2 linked regions of the Homo sapiens genome follow. The protein of the gene in region 2 purifies or fractionates together with the protein of the main gene of each other region. This does not show direct contact. Each region holds a gene or a part of one and is shown on either strand. Other genes may lie near its edges.

The links.
Region 1: the proteins of SLC26A2 (region 2) and TEX264 purify together in Homo sapiens (affinity purification with mass spectrometry; one large-scale study listed by BioGRID and IntAct). This does not show direct contact.

The regions. Positions count from the first base shown.
Region 1 is NC_000003.12:51,695,158-51,698,970, reverse strand, and holds part of TEX264 (testis-expressed protein 264), read right to left. Parts: intron 1-3,813. UniProt on the Homo sapiens protein: Major reticulophagy (also called ER-phagy) receptor that acts independently of other candidate reticulophagy receptors to remodel subdomains of the endoplasmic reticulum into autophagosomes upon nutrient stress, which then fuse with lysosomes for endoplasmic reticulum turnover.
Region 2 is NC_000005.10:149,977,445-149,981,257, reverse strand, and holds part of SLC26A2 (sulfate transporter), read right to left. Parts: intron 3,631-3,813; 5' UTR 3,606-3,630; coding exon 2,907-3,605; intron 966-2,906; coding exon 1-965. UniProt on the Homo sapiens protein: Sulfate transporter which mediates sulfate uptake into chondrocytes in order to maintain adequate sulfation of proteoglycans which is needed for cartilage development.

The sequences.
Region 1 (3,813 bases), on a different chromosome or scaffold from region 2:
TCCTCTCCACCCTGGACAACGCTGACTGACCCACAGATATCAGAAGACCAGCACCCCCAGTCCTTAGGCCTCCAGCCCCTGCTCTTGCAGACATGCTACTATAGACCCTGAACAAGGATCAAGGCCAGCTAAACACCACTTCCACTCCCATTCATTCCCCTGCTAGTTTAGAGCTATGTCAACCTCTGAGACTATCAGGTATGGTTCCCATACCTCCTCACATGTAAACTCAGGTTTTAGCTGATGGGGAAGAGGGAGACCCTGGACTGGAAGGTCAGGTAGGACAAGTAGATCTAGCACAGGACATTACCCAGTGGGCTGATGTACCACCTTTTGGGCCCCAAGTTCCAAAAGGCACTCCACCTCCCTCTGCCTAGACACAGAATCCAGTGCTCCCCATCCCCCAATGAGTATGGAGGGGCACAGACATGCCAGAGCCACCCTGAGGCAGGCAGGGACAGCCAGAACAGGGGTCAAGTTGCCTCTTACTCAGAGCCTGCCCCGCCACCTTTCCTGCGAAGGAGCACAAATACCCACTATGATGACTGCAAGGCCCCTGCCCTGTCACTGCTCACCCGCCAATCTTCACAACACGACTATTTATAGCATTCGCCCCGCTCTCACCATGAGCTCTGAAATGAGCCTTCCACTTAGCAGTAATGAGAGACTTATTGCCTGGCAAGGAGAAGCCACTCCAAGACTCCACTTGTCCACCTGCCTGGCCAACCCTAGGGTTGAGGAACCTCCTTCAACTAAAGCAAGCTAGCAAAGAAGGGTTAAAAGCAAGCCCACGGATGATAAAGGGAAAGAGGAGTGAGCCTGAAAGGTTTACCTAGCTAGGACCCTCAGCAGCCAGCTGAAGGGAGGGTGCATCTAGGAGGCCACGCGGGAGGTGGATGGCCTGTCCCAGGTCTGGCTGTGGCTCAGCCTCTGACTCCATGGGTGATCCAGGCAAAGCCTTCCATCCTAAGTCTCCATGTGCTCAACAGCAAAGTAGAACACCCTAGCCCTGATGCTTCCAAGGTCGGTGAAGGAAAGTCATTATTTTTTAATAGTTGGAGTCAAATCTTCTTTGCCAACCTGGGTGCCCTCGGGGCTTCCTCCATCTCAAGAGTCCATGCCCCTGACACGTCCCATTTCTAAACACACAGATGGCTGTCTTTGCTTCTCTACCCACTCACATACCCACTCCAGCCTTGGTCTCCAGGAGGAGGCTAAACAAGATCACAGTGTCAGGAAGCAGGAGCTGTCAGGCTCTGGGGCCCCTCCAATGCCAGCACTTAGAGGCAGGCATCTGCCAAACCTGAACCCAACTCAGCAAACTGGTCCAGGTCACTGAGGCCAGGGGCAGGGAGGCCCCTGAAGAAGGTCCAGGTCCTTCCCCAGTAGCTAGATGAAAGAAAAGGATCCCTGAATCTAGTCAGGGCATGGCCTTCACCAACATCCTCACACTCTGGACAAAGGACCCAAAGGGTAGTAGCTGAGTGGCCATCACAAGAGCAGCAGACATTTGGCTTTTGGGGGAAGATCCCAGAGGACAGAGCCTGTGTCCACCCAGAGATTCCAGGGACAATGGGGACCCTAGCCCAACCCCTCTCAACACTCAAGCCACCTCCCTAGCTTCCCTTCTGGAGGAACTTGGCCATAACAAGATAATAAGAGGGAGTACTGCTCTTTCCACCCTCTCCCCTAGGCTGGGCAGCACCAGGCTGCCACCCTGTGCCACCTGTTCTGCCAGCCCCCTCGTTGGCAGGCGGGAGGCAGCTCTGCGGCTGTTCTGCGCATCTGCTTCCTCCGGAGAGCCCGGCTCTGAAGTTGCCTGGCTGTGGACAGCCCCGTTGCCATGGAAACTGCATCCTCCATCCTTGCCGTCGCCTTCATCTCAAAGCCATCAGGGAGAACAGAGGATCAAGGGAGACAGAGGATGGAGAGAAAACTGTGGCCCTGCGACACAGCCCTTCCTTCTCTGCCCAGCTCTCCCTCCTCACAGCATCTCACACAGGGAGCACCAGGTCCCAGAGCCTGCTCCCAGACCCCTGGAGGGGCAGCCTCAGGCCCAAAACTAGCCTGGTCCTACCTGCTGTTACCTGGGGGCCCTGGTCCTCCCTACTGGAGGGAGGCATGGAGCTAATTAAAATGCCATTGACTGTTCAGCCCCAAATCATTATAGCACATGCACCAGGTCCTACCAAAATTCAGACTTGGGCAGAGAAGGGACAGGAAGAAGGCAAAGGAGCAAACTTCTAAGCCAGGCCCACAGGCAGAGAAGGGGCTTGTAGTTGCCCCCTGGCCCTTCCTGGGAGACTGCTCTCCCTTGCATGCTCTGCCCACTGAGCAAGAATGACTCTAGTGGGGGCTGGGGATGGAAGGTGAGGGGCAGGACAAGCTATATGCTCTGTCCCTGAGTGATCAGGCAGAGAGGACAAGCCCTTTCCCTCCCAGCCAGGTGCAACCTCGGAGGGAAGACAGGGTGACCATGGGCTGGCTCTCAGGTCCTTGCTGCACAGTAGGAGCCATGGCCCGGGCAATATGTCAATGAGCCAGTAAATATTGGAAAATCATTGGAGGAAGGCGAGGCCAGCTGCCTCTCCCTCAGTTAGCCCCAGGGAGCCCTTGGAGAGCAGACTGCCAGTGGCCAAGGACACTAGCTCAAGGTCACACTGGGCTGGTCCCACTGGTGAAGAGCCTGGGTGGGCCTGGGGTCCTCCTAGCCCTGGCACATCCCCTTCCACAGCCCAGACAGCCAGCAGTGTGTGGAAGCATTGCCAGGACATGAGAACGTGCTCTGCCACTGACACCACTGGCCATCTAACAAACCCACAGCCCAGAGCAGCTCACTCCCACACACAGACCCAAGGAGACTATAAAGCCTCTTTCCAAGGTGGGAGAGTTGCAGATGTTCACATTCCTCTCCACCTAACAGGCAAAAGTCAGTGAACCATGCCAAGGTGCCCCCAGGGTCTGCCAGAAACTGGATTCAGAGTTCCAGTCCCTCAGACACACCTCCGGGCCTTCCCTCCCACCTGGGTCTTCCACATGCAGAAACAAGATGGGGACTTGGGACACCACCCATGATGCAGGAATTTCTAAGAGACCCCAGACACCAGCACTTCCCCACCACCACCCCACCCTGCACCAACACCTGCTTACTCACTCAGGAGTGTTGGCAAAAAAGGGAAGGAGCAGCTCACCCACCTCACACAGGCTGCCACAGTGCCACTGCGTCAGCTACCTTGGGGACACACCACACACTCCCACCTCACTTCAGCCTGAGTTCATCTCCTGGGCAGGGTGCAGGCATTTACCCCATTCAGCTCAGGGCTCCCACAACAGGGCAAGACTGATACACCAGGCCAAGCTTTCCCCCACGGGACCCACAGTGCCTCCCCAGCAGGTCTTTCTGAATTATGGGAGAGGAAGAAAAGAGGTAAGAGAGAGGACCTGGACCTGAACTATCCTCATTTAGTGCTTTGTATTCAGGACATCACCCTGTGCCCTGGCTTCAGCTAGGGATTGGGAGCAAATAGAAGACAGAAGAGGTCAGGCCCAGGACGAAGGCTGATGATGGGTCCCACTCCCAGGCTACCCAGAGGCTGGAGGTTTGCTTAGAACTAGGTGGCTGCAAATGCCCAAAAGAAGGAGGCAATGTGTGGGCCAAGGACGGGTCACATCTCCTACATAAGCTCTAGGCCCAGCAAGGGATGAGGTCTGGCTGAGGGGCCCTGGGCCTTGCCTTACTGTTCACCCTGAGCTACCCAGTCCTATCTATCCTTCTGTGCCAGGCTGGATACCCAGGCAGCTGCACAGCCAGCA
Region 2 (3,813 bases):
CCAAGCAGTGAACTCTTTGGCTTCTGAGTGCGGAGGATGACACAAAATATAGAAAAACAAACCCCAACAAGTAGGCCTATTTCAGTACTTAGCAGTGCAGAGGACAGCATAGTAACAAACCAGATAACTGTATCCATTCTACTAATACTCCACATTTTGGGAAGATCCCTAAATTTACGAAGGGCTCCCCGTAGATTTACAATTGTGATCACACCAAGGACACTTTTTTGAAGGGAATAGAACAAAGGAGCTATTACTAGGAGGACCAACAAAAGAACCAGGGCTGTTACCACACCAGAAAGCTGAGTATGGCAGCCTGTTGATTCTTTAACCAATGTCTTTGCAAGAGCTGCACTAGTAGTAAAACAGTGGAAGAAGGAAGGGATGATATTACAAAAGCCAATGGCATACATTTCCTGGTTTGCTTTGACTGTGTAACCATGTTTCTTGGCAAACATCTCAGAAAGTGATACAGTGATAGCAAAACCAATGATGGAAATAGCTATTGCATCTACAGCCACACTAGGAATTAGGTTCCATTCTGGTACTTTGGGTGGCATAAACCCAGTGGGAATATGTCCAGCAATACTAGAATTATAATTTTCATGTAGTTTTCCAAAATGAGAGGCTAATGTGGCTGCTACAACAACAACAAGTTCAATAGGAATCGGTGCCTTAAGCTTGGATTTGAAGTGTTCATTGAGTTCTTTGGTTGGCAAAAGAACCAAAAGGCACAAAAGGCTGGTGATAAGATCACAGAGATTGGTCTTATGGATGTTTCTGAAGACATGTATCCAGGTAGTGATGAGTGAGCCCACACCATTAGTCCGAGGAAGGTTGAGCCCAAGAAGATACTTGGCCTGAGATGTAAGAATAGTGAAGGAGGCACCAGTGACAAATCCACTCAGCAAGGCATCTGAGAGGTAGACAGAAACAAAACCCACTTGAAAGAAGCCCATCGCTACCTGGAAGGAAGGATATAGAAGTGTTAAATATAAATGGAAAAGAACTTCTAAATTTTATATTATCCTGACATTTCTTGCATGGAGACATATCATCAGAGCATCACAGAATGTCAGAGCTAGAATAAACACAATCATATATCAATCTTCTCATTTTACAAAGATGAAAATTATGTTTAAAGGGCTAAGCAACTTGCCCAAGGTCACACTGTTACTTATTAACCCAGGTGAGACAGGAACTTTGGATTTCTTTCTTTTCATACGTTTCTTAAACTTGAATAAGGTTCATACCTCTTTTTTTTTTCATTCTTCCCATCACAAAGAACAGACCTCTTTTAAAAGAAAAACATTCTCAAGGATCCACAAGAAAACTTCAAATTGGAAAAAATTATTCTAGTTAAGAAACCAAGTATTTTCCTTAAATTACAAATCACTACTGTAAAAGTGAAGTCTTACGGCTTCTCAGCCTCTTGGCTAAGAGCAAGTGTACAAGTGAAGTTTTAATTGGTAAAACAAAAAATTAGATTTACATCAAAGTAGAATCACACTTTAAAAATTATTGTAGATTATCTTTAACCTCATACTAAGAAACCATTCTCATGCAGTATATATGTACTTATGCCACACTGTCTCCCATATTAATAAAAATTCTGCATTTTTACTTCTTTATATTTTCCTCTGTCTAATAAGTTTTCAGAATTGTTATGCCTTCTTCCTTCTTGGTGGGACATACTAACAAAAAGGCAAAAGTTGGTTGGGCGTGATGGCTCATGCCTGTAATCCCAGCATTTGGGGAGGCAATATTGGGAGGATCACTTGAGCCCAGGAGTTTGGTCATAGAGAGACCCTGTCTCTTTATAAATAAATGAATAAATAATAAATAAGTAAGTAGACTTATTATTTACCATTATATATGAGTAGACAGCTCATCTTCACACCATCTTCACTCTCCCTCCCCACTCATCTGAGCACCAACTAAAGTGAGCTACTCTTCCCCTTCCCTTGTTGGTTTGAAATGCCTGCATTAGAGAAGGTTTAATCCTGGCACTGACTCCTGGATGCCAAAAGCCAGGGGCATGATGATAATGACAGATTAGTGGATTCTATGGGAGACTCAAGAATTTGATTTCTTATCCTTTCTCCTGGCTGATAATATGAAACTGTGGTCCCCAACTTTTTCCCTCCCTCCCCAACAATCCAAGACAACCACTACCTTTAGTAAGAGTTGCTCAATAGATCAGCAATTTTAATGGAAGGTAAGAGACATTTAGAATTTGAGGCTGGGTGTGGTGGCTCATGGCTATAATCCCAGCACTTTGGGAGGCCAAGACGGGAGGATTGCTTGAGCTCAGGAGTTTGAAACCAGCCTGGGCAACGTGGCAAAACCCTGTCTCTACAAAAAATAAAAATAAAAAATAAAATAAAATAAAATAAAATAAAATTAGCCAGGTGTGGTAGCATGTGCCTGTAGTCCTAGCTACTCAGGAGGTTGAGGTAGGAGGACTGCTTGAGCCAGGGAGGCGGACGTTGCAGTGAACTAAGATAGTGCCACTGCACTCCAGCGTGACAGAGTGAGACCCTGTCTCCAGAAAAAAAAAAAAAGTGAGAAACTCCTGCACTCTCAACTCCATTCTGTTACCCACTTGCCTAACTGCTAATGCTGACTCTGCCAATAACCAGCCACAAATAATCTCAAGCAAAGCCAAGATTTTCTGACATGTAAAATTAAGGAGTTGTACTGGGTGGTGGAGGTCCAGTGAACCAGCCTTATATTACCTGTGGAGTCAGGTTAGGGTTTGAATTTTGCCTCTACCCTTCATATATCCTGAACTCTCAATAAATGATACCTTTAATTATTGTGATTCCTCAGATCCCTTAGAGATATGAGATTTCATGTACTAGATTACTTTTCTAGAAATAACCAATTGTTTCATTGCTGCTTACCTGATAAACTCCAGCTATAAAGGTTACAGTGCTGCCAACCATAATTGCATAGCAACTTTTGTCACATATCCTGTCTGATGTATGATTTAATAATGTGCTCCCATTTGAAACCATTCCTAAGGAAGGAGCACTATGGGCATTGTCATAGCCAGCTTTCTGTAGTTCTCGGTCAACTGTCTCACCAATCATAAGGCACAGTACTCCAAAAATGCCCACAGAGATGTGACGGGAGGTACCCAAGAGAAAATAAATGATGCTGGCAAAAAAAGATGTGTACAGACCATAGACAGGTTCTTGGCCAGCCAGCAGGGAATAAGCAATGGACTGGGGCACCAATAATATGCCCACAATCAAGCCTGACATCACATCCCCTAAAATGTTTTTCTTTAGGTCGTATTTTGGGAGCCACTGCAAAACAGGAAGGAAACCTAAAATCATATTTTTGGCTTTGGCTGGACTGCACTGGCAATTCTTCTGCAGCTTTTTAATAACAAACTCCTTGAAGTTTGTATCTGATTTCTCTTGACGCTCAATAAGGATCCTATGATAAGGTCTGCATTGATCATTGGTCTCAAATTGCTTGAAGTCAGTACTTGATTCCCTTTGAAGTTCCAGATGGATCCCAGATGGATAACTGTCATTTCCTTCAGCTGAGTCTCTGGGTGAAACGTTATGTTGCTCTTTACTTTCTGAAGACATTTCTGGAGATAGATGGTTCAGCTTCCTACACCAGAGAAAATACCAGTGTTCATCAATAAAGTAATTCTCAGTGCTCACATATACTAACAATTCTATTTGTCATTTCATGAGAGTTAAAAGGAATTCAGTTTTGGAATAGGTATCTTATGTCCCTTTTCCTTAATTGAGCCTCATTTGTCTTGGTTAGGGGGAAAAAAAAAGACCAGAA